3 linked regions of the Homo sapiens genome follow. The protein of the gene in region 3 binds, or shares a complex with, the protein of the main gene of each other region. Each region holds a gene or a part of one and is shown on either strand. Other genes may lie near its edges. A codon is read from its position in the direction of its gene.

What was found. Proteins that work in one complex are often made in the same cells at the same time.
Region 1: the proteins of XPO1 (region 3) and PKIA are in contact, whole or in part, in an NMR structure (PDB 2L1L), measured with the Homo sapiens proteins. Residues at the interface, in NP_003391.1 of Homo sapiens: Val518, Lys522, Leu525, Cys528, Glu529, Lys534, Lys537, Ala538, Ala541, Ile544, Phe554, His558, Lys560, Phe561, Thr564, Lys568, Phe572, Glu575, Thr576, Val580; in NP_006814.1 of Homo sapiens: Asn36, Leu38, Ala39, Lys41, Leu42, Ala43, Gly44, Leu45, Asp46, Ile47, Asn48, Glu51.
Region 2: the proteins of XPO1 (region 3) and RANBP2 are in contact, whole or in part, in a cryo-EM structure (PDB 9B62), measured with the Homo sapiens proteins. Residues at the interface, in NP_003391.1 of Homo sapiens: Trp60, Val63, Asp64, Leu83, Asn97, Gln98, Gly101, Ile102, Lys104, Tyr105, Val107, Gly108, Ile110, Ile111, Leu134, Phe149, Asp152, Ile153, Gly155, Ala156, Ser157, Arg158, Thr159, Ser160, Glu161, Leu163, Cys164, Asn167, Leu208, Phe211; in NP_006258.3 of Homo sapiens: Val2508 (codon at 3,602), Val2509 (codon at 3,605), Ser2510 (codon at 3,608), Pro2511 (codon at 3,611), Pro2512 (codon at 3,614), Lys2513 (codon at 3,617), Phe2514 (codon at 3,620), Val2515 (codon at 3,623), Phe2516 (codon at 3,626), Gly2841, Phe2842, Gly2843, Ser2845, Thr2846, Gly2847, Leu2848, Ser2849, Phe2850, Ala2851, Leu2853, Ala2854, Asn2857, Ser2858, Gly2859, Asp2860, Phe2861, Ala2862, Phe2863, Gly2864, Ser2865.

The regions. Positions count from the first base shown.
Region 1 is NC_000008.11:78,511,527-78,519,339, forward strand, and holds the start of PKIA (cAMP-dependent protein kinase inhibitor alpha), read left to right. Parts: upstream 1-4,813; 5' UTR 4,814-4,942; intron 4,943-7,813. UniProt on the Homo sapiens protein: Extremely potent competitive inhibitor of cAMP-dependent protein kinase activity, this protein interacts with the catalytic subunit of the enzyme after the cAMP-induced dissociation of its regulatory chains.
Region 2 is NC_000002.12:108,764,460-108,771,481, forward strand, and holds part of RANBP2 (E3 SUMO-protein ligase RanBP2), read left to right. Parts: coding exon 1-3,929; intron 3,930-4,800; coding exon of another isoform or gene 4,801-4,878; intron 4,879-7,022. UniProt on the Homo sapiens protein: E3 SUMO-protein ligase which facilitates SUMO1 and SUMO2 conjugation by UBE2I. Involved in transport factor (Ran-GTP, karyopherin)-mediated protein import via the F-G repeat-containing domain which acts as a docking site for substrates.
Region 3 is NC_000002.12:61,528,340-61,535,361, reverse strand, and holds part of XPO1 (exportin-1), read left to right. Parts: intron 1-683; exon of another isoform or gene 684-939; intron 940-1,458; 5' UTR 1,459-1,464; coding exon 1,465-1,590; intron 1,591-7,022. UniProt on the Homo sapiens protein: Mediates the nuclear export of cellular proteins (cargos) bearing a leucine-rich nuclear export signal (NES) and of RNAs.

The DNA.
Region 1 (7,813 bases), on a different chromosome or scaffold from region 3:
TACTCCTCCTGATAGTGTATTTGCATTTAAATGAGTCCTTTCTGGAAGGACTCCCTTAACCCAAAGGAGTGTTTCTAAATGCTGACAGCTCCCAGCACACAGGGCCTCTGGCTCTGGTTTCACATTTTCCCTTGCTGAGACTCATGATATCACTAGGCCATTTGATCTCTAATTTGAGAATATCAGAAAGGAAGCATTGCAGACCTCAAAGTCAAGATCCAAAGTTTAGGGTTTTTTAAAAAAAAATTTGTGCAATAACAAGTCATAGGTTAAAAAAAATTACATATTGCTGTATGTAAAGTTCCAAGAAGACAGATTCAAACCCTATATGTTGACATAAGACATTTCCCAATATCTTTCCCCTTTTCTTTCTGGTTTCCCTATGCCTCTTACCGTGCTGGAGTATCAGAAGCAGTTCAATCCTGCCATTTAATGTCTTTGACTGTTGTCTTTAACACCATCAACACACTGATTCCTTTCCATGAATAAAAAGTACCTGATAAGAATACTTTGATAGATGAATGTATCTATATTATCACAAGAAACTATCTTCAGTGAGTCTGGCTTCGCAGATGGAAACTACACTGGGGGGTCAAGAAAACATGTTCTGGGACTGTCCCAAGTCGCCACAGTTGCATCCCTACTGCCTCAGGCAACTTGAAGGAAAAGATCAAACATCTTTCACTCTTGAGACAATTGTTGTCTTCATCTCAGAAACAAGACAAAGTCAGGCTGTGAGTGGTGGGGATCCAAGCCCAAGTCTGTTCAACTACAAAATCTCTAACCTTCACAGTCATCTCAACCTTCTGGTTCTCTTCACCTTCTCATCCTCCTGCCTCTTTACTTTATAAGGACTTTTATCTTCAGCATGAGATACCTAGCAAATCCTTCAACTAAATGATAAATTATGAAGGCTGAACATGTTCTCTCATTCAAGGTATTTAGAACTTGCAAAGGAGAAAGGGGACAGAAGCCTGCCCAAGTATGCAAGGATAACACTGACAGAGTATCAGCTCCCTGAAGCTCTGGAGTGGCAATTTCATGCCATCTCATTATAGCCTCACAGTAACAGTCTACAGTTTGTATTCTAAGTTTTGCCATGGCTCCCTTTGACAATCTGAAGCAACCTACATAACTCTTCTTAAAATGATGCTTTTCAATGCATAAAATATAATACGTAGAATTGGAAAGGAAACTACGAAGTTTAAAATACTGTTATCAAAATATTTAAAAACAAAATTCATGATATACAAAGGTATGGGCATTTAAACTCATTAAACACAGTATAGGAGAGTTATATATATTTACTTAAAAATTGTGATATTGTGGGAAAGGGTTAACAATTTTTATACTGCTTTACATGTACACTGAAATTGAACAATTATAACAGTGAATGATGGGAGCCATGATTCTCACTATTGGAATAGGAATTTACAGACAAGCAAAGGGAGGAGGCTAGAATGATCTATGTGTTAAAGGATTAAAGTTGGAAACATAAGTATGTGCTCATATTTAGCTTAATACAGACACAGAATGGTCACATATAGAAATACTTATGTATATATGCATGGGTAAGTATACACATATATTTCTTCACTGTCTTAGTTGAAAGGCCTAAACAAAATGACCTGCCAATAATGACTGTGTCTGGGACCCAGATCTTGATTTGTATTACCATTCTCCCATAAAAGGAACAAGGGCTCCATGAAGAAATGGCTGATTCTTGGAATGAAGAAGGAAGTATACAAGTTGAGACTGGAGGAACTTATAATACCATAAAGTAAGGGATTGTTAACAGCCCTGCTGCTCCTGCCATACACACACACACGCACACTCACACATCAAAGGGGGTATGTCAAAGGAGCACAGGAACCTACTGAAAGAGCTTCCAATGGGCAAAACTGGAACAAATTGAACAACAAAATAAAGTAGTAATTGATTATTACCAAAGGCATAAAATATAATACATCTCCATAAGTCTATAATATTGATATCAATAAGTAATTGAATACTTGGTAGAGAATAGACAGCTCTCCTGTACAGAATTCCATATACTTTATGTACACACTCTGCCCTCAGGGAGGTAGAGCCAAAGTCCCACTCCTTAGGTTTGGGTTTCATGTAGTTACTTCCTACAAGTACAGTATGGAAGGGATGGGCAATAACGTTACAGTAGAGAAACCTGACAAACACTGCCTCAGCCAGACAATCAAGGTCAACACATCACCAGTCATAAATCACATCGGTACTATAGCACCTTGATATGATGTGAGGAAAAGGGACTTTACCTCTTTCTTTCTCCTGCCAATAGTTCGCAACTCCAGTCTTATCATAAGAAAAGCATCAGACAAATTGCAACAGTGAGGCCTTCCAGCAAATACTTGACCACTACTCCTCAAAACTGTCAAGGTCATCAAAAACAAGAAAAACTATCACAGCTAAGAGGAGCTTAAGGGGACATGACAACTAAATTTAGTGTGGTATCCTGGATGGATGCCTGGAACAGATTTAAGGATATTAGGTAAAAACCAGGGAAACTTAAATGTAGTTAGACTTTATTTATAGTTAGTAATAATGTATCAGTATACATTCATTGATTGTAACCCAATGATATGGTTCAGATTTGTGTCCCTACCCAAATCTCATGTCAAATTGTAATCCCCAATTTTGGAGGAGGGGCCTAGTGGGAGGTGACTTGATCATGGGGGAGGACTTCCCCCTTGGCTTTCTGGTGGTAGTGAGTTCTCATGACATCTGGTTGTTTAAAAGTGTGTAGCACCTCCCCCTTCTCTTTCTCCTGCTCCAGCCATGTAGGCCCTGCCTGCTTCCCCTTTGCCTTCCACCATGATTATAGGTTTCCTGAGACCTCCCCAATCATGCTTCCTGTACAGCCTACAGAACCACCAGCCCTTCTTTATAAATTACCCAATCTCAGGTAGTTCTTTATAGCAATGCCAGAATTACACCAAGGTACCTTACTATTGTATGATGTCAATAGGAGACACTGGGAATGGGATATATGGGAACACCCTGTATTATTTCTTCAATTTTTCTGGACACCAAAGCTGAAAAATATAGTCTATTAAATAAAAAAAGTAGTGATGATTTGATTATAACATCAGTGTAGTGATAGAGATATCTATAAAAACAGCAATAAGGAATTAGCTGTTGTTTCTATTGGAAACAAAGTCCCAGGTACTCCTAACATTCTTGTGGTTTGTTGCCTACATTATGTTTAAAGGACATGCTAAATGCTAAATTTCAGTTAGAAGTTAGTGAAACTAAAAATGAGATTTTTCCCATTATACTTAATCTGTATAAAAGGAGTATATGAATAGAATTCCATTTATACAGATTAAGAATCTCCTGCTCTATGGTAATATTAACGGGCTAATGTTATGAAAGTGAGTCTCAGAGCGATGAATTAAGCTGTTCTAGCTTTCAAAGAGCATATATTCTATGACCAAGAATTCTAACTAAGTTTTGTTGGAAAGCTGTTGGCTACATTATCACCTAACTTTGGGACTGATAGATGGATGGAAACATCTCATTTAGCAAAGGTGCTTCCCTGGCCTTGTGCAATTGCACTGTTTAGGTTGCTGGACAAATCCATAGTGTAAAGCTGGCCTGTATCAAGTGACGGTCAATTCAAACAGCAAGGCAAGTTAAAAGAGGGAACTCCATTCCACAGAACCCTAGTGTCAAGGAACCTCCCGACTGGAAAATGACTCAACAGCTAGGCGGAAACCCTGGCTCAGCTACAAAGAGAGCAAATTTAGTCCCATTTTTCCTTAAACATTCAACCCTCAAACCTGAAGAGATTTGGGAAAGAAGCAAAACGGGAGGGTGGGGGAGAGAGAACAGTCTTGTTAACAGCTAGTGTTAATTTAAAAAGAGAAGGAAAGGGCTTATATGAATACATGCTTATTTCATTCCCAAAGCAAATTTTCATAAATCCTTAGGGAAAGAGAGATAGTCATTTGCTAATGTAGACTCTGCTTTTTGATTCCCAAATGTTACAGCTGTCACCACAACAGTTTGCCCAATTATGTGGCAGGGAGGGGAGGGGGTCCAGAGCAAAGGAAGTAGGAGGAAGAGATGTTAGAGGGAACATCTGTGCACAAGTGCACCATAAACACAACAAAATCATGGGGCCACCCCACTGTTTCTTTGAGCGCTTTCTCTGGTTGGCCCCACTTCTCCAGTCTTTTAGGAGATTCCCGTTCTATTACGTAGGTGAGAGGGCGAAAGGTTCTAGCTTTCAAAATTGTGAGTGGTTTGGCTGTGTGCATACGTGTGTGTGCGCGCGTGTGTGCGTGTGTGTGTGTGTTTGCGTGTGTGTCTGTTGGCGGGGGCGGGGGTGATGGAGAGAGCTATGAAGGGCTTAGAAAGCTTCATTACCAATTTAAAATGTTTTTGTAGTGCTTGAATGTTTATCTTAAAAGACAATTCCTGCTCTCAAATTCAGCCAAATGAACAATGCTGATAAGGAAGATGAAGAGGGTGGGAAACCCACAGGGGCAAATGGAACAGTCCATGCAGCCGGGGTGACGGGGGAGCGCTCGGAGGAAGGACGCTATGCAGAGAAAGCCCCCCTGGCTCTTCTCTCTCAATCCATAATCCAGCGATGCTGCAGCTGTAAAAGCATTAATAGAAAATCAATCCACAACCTCGCGGGGCAGCGATCGTCGAGCGCCGTTTCCAGGCTGCCTTCCCTGGGGTCGGGAGCGGCCCCGCTCCCCCCGTGGCTGGCGCGGAATGTGGTGATCCGTCCCGGGGCGGGGATGACTTCATGCAGCCGGAGCTCCGCGGCGGGAGCGGAGGCTGCTGCTGGCAGGTGGGGCGCGGGCCGGCGCGAGCTGACCGAGCACTCGGCGGGCGCGGCGGGACTGCGGCCCGTGGCGGCGTGCGCGGGGACCTGCGCTGACTAGGTCCGGGGAAGGTAAGCAGCCCGGCACCGGTGCGCCCTGGCCGCACTGCGTGGAGCTTTCCGCTTGGTTAATAATGGGGTTTGCAGCACGGAGGGAAGAAGGGGAGAACCCCGCTGCATTCTGCAATGAGAAAAGGAGCAACAACTAGGATGGAAATGTTGGGCGGCCAAGTGCAGAGGTTGGAGGAGCAGTGTTACTGGGCAAACAAAGAAGGCGTTCTTGCCTCTATACTCTTTTGAACGTGATCTACCATTTCAGTGCCAGATTCGCGTAGACAGTGAAGAGGACTCAAAATTTAAAATAATTTGAGTTACTCTTTTGCTTTCTGTGCCTTTTACCTTCGCTTGAGTATTTTGAGGATTTGGAGCAGTAGGTCCCTGGCAGCAGCCTGAGGTAATCAGAAATCGTCCCTCTTCCTGTAGTCCTTGGTCCTCTCCCTTTCCAGTTATCAGAATGGGTCTGTGCCCCTCTCAATGGCAAAACACCTGCTTCAAGACTGAACCTTTAGAAAGAGCCTCTATCTGGAGGGGAAACTTCTCTTATCTCCTGGAGTTCAGCTTGGGTTGAGCAGCACTTGACATCGCTTCTTCCTTCAATTGCCATTTTCTCTGTCAATCATTTCATTGATCTTTTTCGGAGATGCTGTGCCCATTCACAGACCAACTCTCGTCAGCTCTTATCCACCACCTGGGTTCCATGACTGATTTTGTCAAGGTCCCAAAAAGGGCATTGCCTCACACAGATTTCTTATTCGGTATTCTCCCTGTATACTGTTACCTGTGTCCTTCCCCCAAATGCATGGAATGAAATATCCTGCTTGTGGCCCTGTACCAACATGTTATCCCATTAACTCCCTTCGCTGTAGTCACTGTGGCTACTTGAAAGCTAGAGAGGACAGATAGAATCTACTGGAGTGTGAGGGATGTTCCCTATGCATAGGCATAGGTAGAAGTAAAAATGTGAATGCCAGTCCATCCAGTTTTTCTTGAAGCAATTTTAGTCCAGTTGGATTTTGAGACAGCTAGCTGTTAAGATTTGGGACAAATCCTTTCCAAAAGGCAGAGGAGTCCGTTTGCCTCTAGGATTCCTCAAGAACCTCAAAAGAGTTTCCAGTGAGGTTTTCCTCGTAGGCAGTCAGAAAGCCAATGGAGCTGCCCAATCTAAGCCTCTGGTTGAGTATCCTCTAGTTTGTCTTGCCATTTGCAGGTTCCTATCCCTCGTCCTAGGATTTTCCCCACAGACCCCTTGCTACTGAGCCCAAGTGCCTATCCTTGTTGCCACCTAGAGATGTACATTTGAATAATATGCTGTGAAATGGTTAAGATGGCTGTTATGGGGATTGCAAACGTGCCACTTCACCAACAGAGAACAGTTGCAATAAGCCAGATTGTGGGGTATCTGTGTGCCAATGTTCTATTTAAAGGAAGATCTGTTATCTTTAAACTTAAAATTACAGAGACTGTCTGACTCAACAGCCATGCAATTTTATTTTAGTAAATTAAATTAGAAGATCAATGAAAAAGAGGGGCAGAGTTGGTAGCTTAAAATTTTACCTCTTTCTTTCCTCTTCAAATATTATTTTTAAGCAAAGACACTAGTATGGAAAATCGTGTTAATCATATTATATATCATTATTGCCTTTCTATTACAAATTTCGTTTTTACAAAATGCACTTTAGAAAGATTTGAATTTGTTTCTTTGTCTCCATCTTCAGTATATGAGGCATAGGGTGAGGGTGTAGGGGGTGGGCAAAGCCCACTACTGAGTGATCCACTCCAGGAACTGCCCCTTGGGGTCTTAATAACCTTATGTTCCTTTTTTGTTGTTGTTATTATGTGTTAAACAGGGTTTTGGTTTGAAATATTAACTTCTTGAGATTCTAGAATTTTTACTCAGTCACATTAACTATGAGGTAACAAAGAACAAGATCAACAACAAACCCTGTATTCTACCACCTTTTTTCTACTATTAAAATACTTAACCATATACATCATTATTCTGAATAATACTAATATAGAATAATAATGAATTTTAATATAGTTATTCTAAATAACCTAAGGTATATGAAATACAGATTAGTACAATTGATCTTAGAAATACAATGCAGTTTCTGTAATGTTGACAGTCACCTTTCTGTTGAAGAGCAAGTGCGTGAGAATATCCTAATGATGGTTAGAAATTCGAAGTGTCTATCATTTAGTTTCTGAAGAAACTAAACTCTTTGGCAAGAAATAGGTTCAGGATTAGGAGACTGGTGCTGCCTAAGGTGGAATAATACTTGCTAGTGATTTTGCAGGTGAGTTGAACCCACTAAGTTATGGACTGGAGTTGGAGAAATCTTGTTGAGAAGAAAGAAAACAAGTTAGAAAATTTAATTTTCATTTTAGTACAACTGAGGAAGATAATCAAACTGAAGGGATTCCTGAATTTGGACTTTGTTGTGTTTAAACAAGTTTGAGGAAAGTTTCTAAATTTAGAAGGCTAAGCAGAAATATATGTATGATTTTATGTCTGAAACTGATTTATGACTTTATATCCTTTCCTTAAAATGTTTCCTAGGGAGAGGAAAAACTAATTGGCTGGTGTTCAGAATTGAAAGAGGAATGAAAAATGGAAGGACGTGCATGATTAGATGCTAAATGATTAGATACTAAATGAACTGCAGGCACTTTTGTGTTTGACAAGATAGAACTGAAGTCAGTCTACTGCTCTCCAATTGTGTAAAAAAAAAAAAAAAAGTTTTGTCTGCTAGACAGTGTTACCAGATATTTAGAGAGTAAAAATTTAGGAGTTAAAGTTGCCCTCTTCTAACAAAATATCTTTTTCTGGTGCTGCATTACTGCCATTAACTACAATTGAAATAGCCTTAAGATTTGAGGCTG
Region 2 (7,022 bases), about 47 Mb from region 3:
CCCAGGAACAAATGTAGCCATGGCGTCAAATCAGGCTGTCAGAATTGTAAAAGAACCCACAAGTCATGATAACAAGGATATTTGCAAATCTGATGCTGGAAACCTGAATTTTGAATTTCAGGTTGCAAAGAAAGAAGGGTCTTGGTGGCATTGTAACAGCTGCTCATTAAAGAATGCTTCAACTGCTAAGAAATGTGTATCATGCCAAAATCTAAACCCAAGCAATAAAGAGCTCGTTGGCCCACCATTAGCTGAAACTGTTTTTACTCCTAAAACCAGCCCAGAGAATGTTCAAGATCGATTTGCATTGGTGACTCCAAAGAAAGAAGGTCACTGGGATTGTAGTATTTGTTTAGTAAGAAATGAACCTACTGTATCTAGGTGCATTGCGTGTCAGAATACAAAATCTGCTAACAAAAGTGGATCTTCATTTGTTCATCAAGCTTCATTTAAATTTGGCCAGGGAGATCTTCCTAAACCTATTAACAGTGATTTCAGATCTGTTTTTTCTACAAAGGAAGGACAGTGGGATTGCAGTGCATGTTTGGTACAAAATGAGGGGAGCTCTACAAAATGTGCTGCTTGTCAGAATCCGAGAAAACAGAGTCTACCTGCTACTTCTATTCCAACACCTGCCTCTTTTAAGTTTGGTACTTCAGAGACAAGTAAAACTCTAAAAAGTGGATTTGAAGACATGTTTGCTAAGAAGGAAGGACAGTGGGATTGCAGTTCATGCTTAGTGCGAAATGAAGCAAATGCTACAAGATGTGTTGCTTGTCAGAATCCGGATAAACCAAGTCCATCTACTTCTGTTCCAGCTCCTGCCTCTTTTAAGTTTGGTACTTCAGAGACAAGCAAGGCTCCAAAGAGCGGATTTGAGGGAATGTTCACTAAGAAGGAGGGACAGTGGGATTGCAGTGTGTGCTTAGTAAGAAATGAAGCCAGTGCTACCAAATGTATTGCTTGTCAGAATCCAGGTAAACAAAATCAAACTACTTCTGCAGTTTCAACACCTGCCTCTTCAGAGACAAGCAAGGCTCCAAAGAGCGGATTTGAGGGAATGTTCACTAAGAAGGAGGGACAGTGGGATTGCAGTGTGTGCTTAGTAAGAAATGAAGCCAGTGCTACCAAATGTATTGCTTGTCAGAATCCAGGTAAACAAAATCAAACTACTTCTGCAGTTTCAACACCTGCCTCTTCAGAGACAAGCAAGGCTCCAAAGAGCGGATTTGAGGGAATGTTCACTAAGAAGGAAGGACAGTGGGATTGCAGTGTGTGCTTAGTAAGAAATGAAGCCAGTGCTACCAAATGTATTGCTTGTCAGTGTCCAAGTAAACAAAATCAAACAACTGCAATTTCAACACCTGCCTCTTCGGAGATAAGCAAGGCTCCAAAGAGTGGATTTGAAGGAATGTTCATCAGGAAAGGACAGTGGGATTGTAGTGTTTGCTGTGTACAAAATGAGAGTTCTTCCTTAAAATGTGTGGCTTGTGATGCCTCTAAACCAACTCATAAACCTATTGCAGAAGCTCCTTCAGCTTTCACACTGGGCTCAGAAATGAAGTTGCATGACTCTTCTGGAAGTCAGGTGGGAACAGGATTTAAAAGTAATTTCTCAGAAAAAGCTTCTAAGTTTGGCAATACAGAGCAAGGATTCAAATTTGGGCATGTGGATCAAGAAAATTCACCTTCATTTATGTTTCAGGGTTCTTCTAATACAGAATTTAAGTCAACCAAAGAAGGATTTTCCATCCCTGTGTCTGCTGATGGATTTAAATTTGGCATTTCGGAACCAGGAAATCAAGAAAAGAAAAGTGAAAAGCCTCTTGAAAATGGTACTGGCTTCCAGGCTCAGGATATTAGTGGCCAGAAGAATGGCCGTGGTGTGATTTTTGGCCAAACAAGTAGCACTTTTACATTTGCAGATCTTGCAAAATCAACTTCAGGAGAAGGATTTCAGTTTGGCAAAAAAGACCCCAATTTCAAGGGATTTTCAGGTGCTGGAGAAAAATTATTCTCATCACAATACGGTAAAATGGCCAATAAAGCAAACACTTCCGGTGACTTTGAGAAAGATGATGATGCCTATAAGACTGAGGACAGCGATGACATCCATTTTGAACCAGTAGTTCAAATGCCCGAAAAAGTAGAACTTGTAACAGGAGAAGAAGATGAAAAAGTTCTGTATTCACAGCGGGTAAAACTATTTAGATTTGATGCTGAGGTAAGTCAGTGGAAAGAAAGGGGCTTGGGGAACTTAAAAATTCTCAAAAACGAGGTCAATGGCAAACTAAGAATGCTGATGCGAAGAGAACAAGTACTAAAAGTGTGTGCTAATCATTGGATAACGACTACGATGAACCTGAAGCCTCTCTCTGGATCAGATAGAGCATGGATGTGGTTAGCCAGTGATTTCTCTGATGGTGATGCCAAACTAGAGCAGTTGGCAGCAAAATTTAAAACACCAGAGCTGGCTGAAGAATTCAAGCAGAAATTTGAGGAATGCCAGCGGCTTCTGTTAGACATACCACTTCAAACTCCCCATAAACTTGTAGATACTGGCAGAGCTGCCAAGTTAATACAGAGAGCTGAAGAAATGAAGAGTGGACTGAAAGATTTCAAAACATTTTTGACAAATGATCAAACAAAAGTCACTGAGGAAGAAAATAAGGGTTCAGGTACAGGTGCGGCCGGTGCCTCAGACACAACAATAAAACCCAATCCTGAAAACACTGGGCCCACATTAGAATGGGATAACTATGATTTAAGGGAAGATGCTTTGGATGATAGTGTCAGTAGTAGCTCAGTACATGCTTCTCCATTGGCAAGTAGCCCTGTGAGAAAAAATCTTTTCCGTTTTGGTGAGTCAACAACAGGATTTAACTTCAGTTTTAAATCTGCTTTGAGTCCATCTAAGTCTCCTGCCAAGTTGAATCAGAGTGGGACTTCAGTTGGCACTGATGAAGAATCTGATGTTACTCAAGAAGAAGAGAGAGATGGACAGTACTTTGAACCTGTTGTTCCTTTACCTGATCTAGTTGAAGTATCCAGTGGTGAGGAAAATGAACAAGTTGTTTTTAGTCACAGGGCAAAACTCTACAGATATGATAAAGATGTTGGTCAATGGAAAGAAAGGGGCATTGGTGATATAAAGATTTTACAGAATTATGATAATAAGCAAGTTCGTATAGTGATGAGAAGGGACCAAGTATTAAAACTTTGTGCCAATCACAGAATAACTCCAGACATGACTTTGCAAAATATGAAAGGGACAGAAAGAGTATGGTTGTGGACTGCATGTGATTTTGCAGATGGAGAAAGAAAAGTAGAGCATTTAGCTGTTCGTTTTAAACTACAGGATGTTGCAGACTCGTTTAAGAAAATTTTTGATGAAGCAAAAACAGCCCAGGAAAAAGATTCTTTGATAACACCTCATGTTTCTCGGTCAAGCACTCCCAGAGAGTCACCATGTGGCAAAATTGCTGTAGCTGTATTAGAAGAAACCACAAGAGAGAGGACAGATGTTATTCAGGGTGATGATGTAGCAGATGCAACTTCAGAAGTTGAAGTGTCTAGCACATCTGAAACAACACCAAAAGCAGTGGTTTCTCCTCCAAAGTTTGTATTTGGTTCAGAGTCTGTTAAAAGCATTTTTAGTAGTGAAAAATCAAAACCATTTGCATTCGGCAACAGTTCAGCCACTGGGTCTTTGTTTGGATTTAGTTTTAATGCACCTTTGAAAAGTAACAATAGTGAAACTAGTTCAGTAGCCCAGAGTGGATCTGAAAGCAAAGTGGAACCTAAAAAATGTGAACTGTCAAAGAACTCTGATATCGAACAGTCTTCAGATAGCAAAGTCAAAAATCTCTTTGCTTCCTTTCCAACGGAAGAATCTTCAATCAACTACACATTTAAAACACCAGAAAAGGGTAAGTACTTTGTTGTTAAAGTTAAGCACAATTTTTCTTTCTTTTAATGTTTAGCTTGATGCAGACTCTTTGTAGGATACTAATGTTGGGATATAAATGATGCTTTGTGAACACCCCCAAAATATTTGAGCAATTTTTTTTCTCCCTTAATAAGTTCACGGTGAGGTTTCAAAGAGCAAGAGAACTTAGTTTAAGACATTTCAGTAACTGGAAGATACTTTTATCATGCTAGGGCAGAGCAAAAGAACTCGGTACGGTATACGGACTCATGCTTGAATCATGCACATTAACGTGAGTCTTTTTTTAAAGTGTTCATTTTCATTTGTTCAGTTTCTTTTGTCACTCAGAAAACATGATATTGAGGCTGGGCACGGTGGCTCACTCCTAGAATGCCAGCACTTTGGGAGGTTGAGGTGGGCAGATCACTTGAGCTCAAGAGTTCGAGACCAGCCTGGCCAGCATGGTGAAACCCTGTTTCTACTGAAAATACAAAAATGAGCCGGGCGTCGTGGTGCGTGCCTATAATTAGCAGCTACTTAGGAGGCTGAGGCAGGAGGATCACTTGAGCACAGGAGATGGAGGTAGCAGTGAGCTGAAATCATGCCACTGCACTCCAGCCTGACTGAGTGACTGAGACTTTGTCTCCAAAAAAAAAAAAACAACGTGATATTGAGATGTTCTCATTTTATATGTTGTATGTCAGTCTTGCTCATGTATTAAATGAGCAAAGAATGAAACTACAGGGATAAATGAATATGTAAGACAATCAGATTGGTGGTATAAATTGAGGGATTCTGGCTTTTTATGTTTTAAAAGCATATTCATTTTGTTTCCTAAAATGTTAAAAAACGAAATATTCTTTATTTTCTAGGATTTAATTTTAGCCTTTTTAAATCTAATCCCATGGCCTTTTGGACTAGCACCCCTTCCTCACAGCCTGAGAGCAAAGGTATAGAACTAGCATTCTCAGTATGAGATAACAGCAGTTTTTAGCAGCTGGGTAGCCCTTAGCAAAGTATTAATAACTGTGGCTGTATGAAATGAAGTACTTACCACTACAACATGCATGTTAAAGAATGCCAGTTTAAGCAAAGTACCTTTTGACTGGTGGCATGACACCCTTGTTGGTTTGTTTTTTAAAATGTACTGGGATGCTGATTTGTAATGTACTTCATTGCTCTGCTATTTCAGGTCTGCTCAATGAAGACCTATGTTTTATCTAATGTTTATGTTTAGCCACTAACGTCTGCCAGTATTCAAATGTAGTGGCAACGGCATGTATACAATATGGAAGAGTGTCCCTGTAGGGCTGTTCTTTTGTGCATGGTTTAGAAAAATGTTGTATTTGAAAATGGACCCCGTTTTTAACAGCCAGCATTCTACAGCTTGCATATTATATATGTTGCACCGATCAATTTTAGAAGTGTGGCTACTAGAGTGGAACAAGAAGTGGGATCTGTTGAAGGCCTTCAAGAACAGGTTAGGGAAGTGAAATCTCACCCTTAGTGACCAGTAACACATCTTAGCCATGCCAAACAAGTACAATGATAAAGTAGCAATCTCTGATTTTTTTTTTTAAGTATACCAGTTTTATTACTAGCTAAGGTAGCTCTTAATCTTTTATTTTTAAAGATACGGTCTTTGAGAAATGTGAAAAGTGTTAACTTAAAAGTGGATGTATACTTGCGTACAGTTTCTGTGAGCTCTAGGTTAGGAATCCCTGACCTAAGAATGAATGTGCCTATATACTACTGTAGAACATAGAGCCTTATTTTGTTTTGAATCTGATAATGTCATTGTCCCAAGGGACCTTAGAAATGAAGACTTTAGACATGAGTAAACTGAGGCCAAGAGAGGCTATCTGATTTACCCAAGGTGTCTTTACTGAGTAATAGCAGAAGTGGAACAAGAATCTGTATCTTACGGTGTACTGTTATTTCTCCTAGCTAGAAAATGATACTAAGTTTTTGTTTATAATGAAGGAGAGGGACAAATTTAACATTGTAAAAGGAAGGGCACTGGTTCTGCAGAGCAGTGTCATCCAGTAGAAATAAAATATAACCTGTGTATGTAATTTAAAATTGTCATTTGGTGCAATGGCTTGTGCCTATAATCCCAGTTACTTGGGAGGCTGAGGCAGAGGGATCACTTGAGCCCACAAGTTCCAGGCTTTAGTGAACTGTGATCACATCACTGCACTCCAGCTCTGGGTGACAAAGCAAGACTGCATCTCAAATAAATAAATAAATAAATAAATTTTCTAGTAGCCATATTAAAAAGAATAAAAAGAAACAGTTAAAAAGGGAAACAGATGAAAGTAACTTTATTGATAGATTTGATTTAACTTATGTCCAAAATATCATTTTAACTTCTAATTAATATAAAAATTAATGATATTTTACATTATTGTTTTTCACCAAGTCTTCAAAATCCAGTGTGTGTGTTTACACTTACTGTTAGCACGTCTTGATTTGGACTAGCCACCTTGTGAGGTTTTAATAGAATGTGGCTAGGCTACCATATTGGACACCATAGCTCTCAGAATGTTTCCCTATCACTAGTTGGTATACATGGCATGCTTCATGACTGGCTTGCTTTATTAAACTCCTTTAGCCAGAAGTTCAGAACAGGTTGCATATAGAAGTTTTTTCTCTTTCTAATTTTTTGCCCTTTGCATTGATGGTGGCTGGGGATGGGTTGTTTTTAGCCATATGAATGGTCTTAGATTTTATAGTGTTAGCTACCTATAGAGTCACAGTTGTTATTTAATTTTACTTAGTATCATGCTTGAACATAGGCAAACTAGATGCAACTCTAGTCACCTTCCATTCTTGGCAATTGTTAACTTTCCTTACAGAAACTAATCACAGTTGGCTTTGGATTAGTTTCATATGTATAGTAATACTTGCCTATGTTTTAAGATTTTTTTCAATTGCTGCAAATGCATGGATATTTTGGTAAACTATTGTATGCTAAGTATAGTTAGGCAACACTTTAAAATTTTTAACCTTTATAAATTCTAGAAATTTATAGTAATTCTTTTCAATGACTATTAAGTAAACACAAATTTTTTTTTGTTTTCTTTGGTTTTAA
Region 3 (7,022 bases):
TGGATGGCTTTCAGGATGTCCTGAATCCTCTATAATTGTATACAAAATCGTGAGTTTTTAAAAACTGGGTTAGAGCTATTGGTTCCTCAGAGTCTCAGGCATCTTAGACCCCCAAAAAGGTTAAGGACTACTGACTTAACCAATTAGGTTTGAGTGGCATTGGCTTTGAAGAAAAGCAGAGGAAAGATATATTTTATAATTCTGGGCAACAAAAAAGTGGATGTGTGCCAGCATCTTAGAGTAGAATCCTCTTAAAAGGATAGCACTGCATATGAACTAGTAGGTTTTAACCAGTGCATATTTAGGCGAAGTAGCTCATTTTTCTGTTAGAATTCTTTTTTATTTGGGAATGGGCAAGCTTTTACAGCTTTTACCTTGCCAATGAATACCTGGAATTTAAAAAATCTTGTTAGGCATATTGCCCATAAAGTTTTTTTTCCTAGATCATATATTCAGTAAATATGTTTGTAGCTTTATTTCAATCCCCCAATTCATTGAGGGTTGAAACAATTTGAATGGTTTGAGTGTAGAAGCTAAGTTATTTCTGTAGAGGCTAAGGGCATTTATACCAAGATATGTTAGACTTGTGGTTCCTGCTAACCATTGCTGTAGACAATAGGAATTACTGTATATCCACATTTTAATTTTTAACATCATTCTGTCTTTGTTTGTTTGTTTTTGAGATGGAGTCTCATTCTCTTGCCCAGGCTAGAGTGTGGTGGTGCATCTCGGCTTACTGCAAACTCCGTCTCCTGGGTTCAAGCAGTTCTCCTGCCTCAGCTTCCCAAGTAGCTGGGATTACAGGTGCCCGCCTCCATGCCTGGCTGATTTTTGTATTTTTAGTAGAGACGGGGTTTTGCCATGTTGGCCAGGCTGGTCTGGAACTCCTGACCTCAAGTGATTCGCCCACCTCGGCCTCCCAAAGTGCTGGGATTACAGGTGTGAGCCACCACGCTCGGCCCATTCTGTCTTTATAGCATTATTTTTATAAAGTTAAGATAATGTGAAGTGAGCTTTTACTGAGTTATTCAGAAGACCCTACTTGGGAAGAAAAGAAAATCACATTCACTTGAACTTAATCCTACTTGCTTAAAAAGTTTTGACATCAAGATACTGAACTGTATCACGTTTTAGGACCATAAAATCCTAATAGTGGATGCGTTTAAATAATAGGTTAGCATACTTTATAAATGTTAGTAGAATAGGAAAGTCTTCCTGGTGTATAAACTAAACACTAGAAAAGTTGAATGGACCATAATAATTTATGTAATTATCAAATAGCTAAGTAATTTCAGCTTTTGTTACTTGCTTTTACTATCTCAGTTTTCTGTAATTAAAGTCTCTAAAGTATTCATTAAAATATTTGTAATAACATGGTTGAAGTAAAATAACTTGTAGGAAGTTTTTGATAATACCAAAACTTGATAGGCAGCTTCAATTTTTTTTCTTTATTTTCAGTAATCTATGCCAGCAATTATGACAATGTTAGCAGACCATGCAGCTCGTCAGCTGCTTGATTTCAGCCAAAAACTGGATATCAACTTATTAGATAATGTGGTGAATTGCTTATACCATGGAGAAGGAGCCCAGGTAAAGTAGCCAACCAAAACTTTATAACATTATGACAGTGTAACAGAGTTGTTGGGTTTAGAATAAAATTTTAAATTATCACCTTTAAAAAAGATATTCCATAGTTTGCATTAATTTGGAATTCTGTATTAACCATAATGAAAATTGGTTTGGAGAAAGAAATTGCATGTTTGACATGGTTAGAGTGGGTTGTTTTGGAATATTATACTTGTTTTGTCCTTAAGAGCCAAATGTTATTAAATACTTTGTAGGTATTAAAGGTTCTCTGTACTTTTATATATACTTAATATGTTTGGCACTAATACGATTCTTCTACTTTTAAAACATTTACAGAAGTACTTCACAGATATGTTTGTTTAAATAAAAACAGGAATACCAAGTATTTTTATGTTAGTTGAATTTTGTGCACTTTTCAAAGTGGTACTGTTAATGTAGGGAATTATCTTAAACATAAACCAAATTTTGATCAGTTTAAGATTTTTGGTTTTTTTGAACCCAACTAAAAGGTGAAACAGAAATGTGTGTACAATTTTAAATTGTATATGTCACAAGAAAAAAAACTTGATTTTTTACCTGTGGGGCCAAACTTTTTTTTGAGACAGTCTCGCTCTGTGGTCCAGGCAGGAGTGCAGTGGCGCTATCTCAGCTCACTGCAACCCCTGCCTCCTGGGTTCAAGCGATTGTCTTGCCTCAGCCTCCCTGGTAGCTGGGATTACAGGCACACGCCACCATGCCTGGCTAATTTTTGTATTTTTAGTAGAGATGGGGTTTCACCGTGTTGGCCAGGCTGGTCTTGGAACTCCTGACCTCAGGTGATCCACCTGACTCGGCCTCCCAAAGTGCTGGGATTACAGGCATGAGCCACCGCGTGCTGGCCCAAACATGTTTTTGAATGAGTAAAAAGTTTTGCAGTTGGGTCAGAAATCTTTTTTTTTTTTCAGATGGAGTCTTGCTCTGTCACCAGGCCTGAGTGCAGTGGCACAGTCTCGGCTCACTGCAACCTCTGCCTCCCAGGTTTTCAAGCAATTCACCTGCCTTAGCCTCCCGAGTAGCTGGGACTACAGACGCGCCACCATGCCCAGCTAATTTTTTGTATTTTAGTAGAGATGGGTTTCATCATATTGGCCAGGATGGTCTCCATCTCCTGACCTCGTGATCCGCCTGCCTTGGCCTCCCAAAGTGTGGAGATGACAGGCATGAGCCACCGCGCCTGGCCAGAAATCTTTTATGGTAGTTTTGTTGCCAGAACAGTAGATTTCTGGTTAGATAAATGTTCAGCTAGTAGATGGGAGGTTACTTATATTGTCAAGATATTTATATTTGCATAATTAAGAAACTGAGTGCCGGCCGGGCGCGGTGGCTCACGCCTGTAATCCCAGCACTTTGAGAGGCCGACGCCGGCGGATGACGAGGTCAGGAGATCGAGACCATCCTGGCTAACACGGTGAAACCCCGTCTCTACTAAAAACACAAAAAATTAGCCAGGCGTGGTGGCGGGCGCCTGTAGTCCCAGCTACTCGGGAGGCTGAGGCAGGAGAATGGCGTGAACCCGGGAGGCGGAGCTTGCAGTGAGCCGAGGTTGCGCCACTGCACTCCAGCCTGGGCAACGGCATGAGACTTCGTCTCAAAAATAAAAATAAATAAATAAAATAAAATAAAAAAACCTAAACCTGAGTGCCATTACACTTTCTGAAAATATATAAGGTGGATACAGTACTATCTTTTATAGTAGTCCAAAAAGCATCATGTATAAATGTTTCCATTCCCTTATGAAATGCAACAGTACTGCTTTTACTATAGTAGAAACTTGAAAAAGGTCCATGGAAACGCTAAAAGTAGAAAAAATTACTCTTGCAGTGATTCTGTAAGCTTGTTAGCCCAGGTTTATACTTTTAGGGCGTTTTGATCAGTATATTATCTCCTAAAGCATTCTTGAAAAAATTAACCATCCGTATTTATTATCCCTGTCATTTAGTTGTTACTCATGCTATACATTCAACATGAAGCTTTAAGCTTCATTTCTTCTAGCATGGATGCATAGAAAGCAGCTGCTTTTGGAGGAAGCTATGAAAGTAAGGTTGGGTTCAACTCTGAATGTAATATTGGAAGCACAGGTCTGTAGCCATTGGGAAAAAGGGCATTTAATTTTTTCCGCATAGATTCAGCTACTAATACTGTTTAATCTTCACACTAAACTAGTTCACTACATCTAAAGGTATGATAAATAAACCAACATAGAGCAGTGTTCTTCATGGCTTGTAACAGAATTAGTGGCAATTTTTGTAATTGAGAATATATTACAGCAATACTGCTTTTAATAATGTTTCATAGTATTAAGAAATTTAATGGTTTGTTTTAAAATTGACTTGTTAATAAAAAGTAGATTAAGAAAAGTGTTTCTAAATTTTTTTGTTTGTAAGGACAATAGGTTAACTTTCCCAAAGTAAAAGGATTTTGTCTGCAGTAGTTAATAGATCATGTGACAAAATCAGTTGCGTAGAAATAACTAGCAAACTTATTTTGTATTATAAATGAAGAAACAAGATTTAGAGCTTAAAGCTGGTTAAGGAGTCCTTTTGGTCTCTAAAAGTCCTATGTCGTTAGTTCAGTCTACTTTTCGTTTACCACCTCCTTGGGGGTCTTATTTCAAAGGAAAAGGAGTAGTAGTAGCAGCGAGCTGCTATAGTGGAAAACATGATTTTTAGTGTTAGACGTCTTAATTTGATTCTTGGAAGCTCTCTCTAGTCATTGCTTAAGTCCCATGTACAAATATGACCTGTCCTACAAGAGATTGGAGGGTTAGTTATGAGGTTTAAAAGCACCTATTACAGTGCTTGATAGGTAGAAGGCACTCAGCTTAAAGGGTACATTTAGCAGTATAATGAAAATGATTTAGCATATGTGATACTCATTGCTTAAAATTAAAAAAATTTTTTTTTTGCTACTCATAAAATATGCACTAATGACAAGAAAAATTTATTATGCTAATTAAGCTTTTAAAGTCAACTGGGAAAAAAAGCTGTAGGTAGGTTTTTTTTTTTTTAAAGGAATGTGTAACTTGGGGGAGGGGAAGAAATTATTTACAAGGGTGACTTTTAATCTGTAGACAGAACTTCTGCATACATGGTTAGTATAGTAGGATATTTAGCAGTGTAACATTAGGACTACCCTCTACCCTCTGTTATCAGCATTTTTCTATTTTTAGCCAAGTAGACAGCTAGAAAAAAGATGCGGGAAGAGTTGGATGTTTTCTCCAATATTGTGTTCTGTTAAAGATCTTGAACTCTATTGCTTAGCAACTAAAATGCTTTCACCATTCAGTTAGTAGTACAAGGGAGATGCTAGGTTTTCTCTCTTTAGTTTGCTTTTGTGTCTTTTTTTTTTAAACCCCTGCTGGGGTTTTAAGTTTATAAAGAACATTATGTAAGAATGGTGGGATTAGAATAAATCAGAATGCAAATACTAGAAGTAGCATCAGAGAGTAAAATTACAACTAACAGGAAAGAATATTATTTATGTAGCGATTGATGTGAGTGGTGATAGTGTGGGAAGTATTTGATTCTGTGTAGAATGCTTATCACTTCAAAGCATCTGACAAAATGGTAACTTGACCAAGTAACTTTTACTGTGTGAGGATCTTTGATACAACTTTTCCTCTAGTTAGATAAGGTTATCTAGCTAGATATTCTCAGGGAGAAGACCAAAACACTGCTAAAATGTGCTTTGGCCCTAGATAAGCCACATCATTATTCTTTCGGCCTTCTGTCATTTCTCATATGACACATTATGCCCATCAGTCCTTTAATGAAATCAAATAGAAATGTGTATGATTGTATTTTAAAGTATACACATTAACTCTTGTAACCACAGACTCACAATGGAAGCAGGCGTCTGATCTTTTCAGGCAACCACAGTGGTTCTGGTGGGTTTCTGGGTAGAGAACAACCATATAAGTTATTGAGTGTGTAGCAGTGTGTTTTCCTGATTGATGTATGGGATAGTCATGAATGTGGTATTGTATTTCCTACCTGAGGAAAAGGTCATGATTAAAATAAAGCATCAAAGCCAGGATAAGCATATAATTTCTTTCTTTTTTTTTTTTTTTGTAATGAGACAGAGTCTCACTCTGTAGCCCAGGCTGGAGTGCAGTGGTGTGATCTCAAATCACTGCAACCTCCGCCTTCCGGGTCCTGGTTCAAGCAATTCTCCTGCCTCAGCCTCCTGAGTAACTGGGATTACAAGTACGCCCCACCATGCCCAGCTAATTTTTGAATTTTTAGTAGAGACGGGGTTTCACCATGTTGGCCAGGCTGGTCTTGAACTTCTGACCTCGTGATCCACCCACCTTGGCCACCCAAAGTGTTGGGATTACAGGCGTGAGCCACGGTGCCCACCCGAGCATACGATTGTTTTAAAAAAGACTAGAATAAAAGCCAAGCTAAAGATTATAAGGTATCTTTGTCAGAAATGGTTGTGAGAGTGCTTCCTACCCTGTTTTTGATGCTTTATTGTTTATAACCATAGAATTAAACCCATGATAAAGTAAAGTATAAGAGAAAGATAACTGACAGATTTTAAAGTCATCAAACTTTTTTCTTGCTCTGTCACACAGGCTGGAGCACAATGGCTTGATCACAGCTCACTGCAGCCTTGACTTCCCAGGCTCAATCTTCCCACCTCAGCCTCCTGAGTAGCTGGGACCATAAGTGCGTGTCCCACCACACCTGGCTCATTATTAATTTTTCTTTGTTGCCCAGGCTGGTCTTGAACTCCTGGGATTACAGACATGAGCCACCACACCTGGTCCAAACTTTTTGCTTACAACTTTTAATAGAAATAGGTAAAAGAAATAGGAAGGATCTAATTGAGTTATAAAACAACCTTTAAAGATACAAAAGTGAAAAAGATTAAGCCATTGCTTTTTGTCAATAGAATTAAAAGCTGTTGGTAAAAATATTAATGTATGAAAAACTTATTGAAATGAAAAAACTATATATATATATATATATATATATATATATATATATATATATATATAAATAAAATGTCGACATGGCTGGATCTTAAAAACTGTCAAATGAAAAAAACTAATTGCAGGAAAGATTTTTTTTTTTTTTTTGAGAGGGAGTCTCACGCAGTCAACCCAGGTTGGAGTGCACTGGGGCAATCTTCCTGATTCTTGGGGAATCTTGGCTCACTGCAACCTCCGCTCCTGGATTCAAGCGATTCTCCTGCCTCAGCCTCCCGAGTAGCTGGGACTATAGGCGCACGCCACCATTCCCGGCTAGTTTTTGTATTTTTAGTAGAGATGGGGTTTCGCCATATTGGTCAGGATGGTCTTGAACTCCTGACCTTGTGATCTGCTCACCTCGGCCTCCCATAGTGCCAGGATTACAGGCGTAAGCCACCGTGCCCAGCCTAAAAGATTTTTA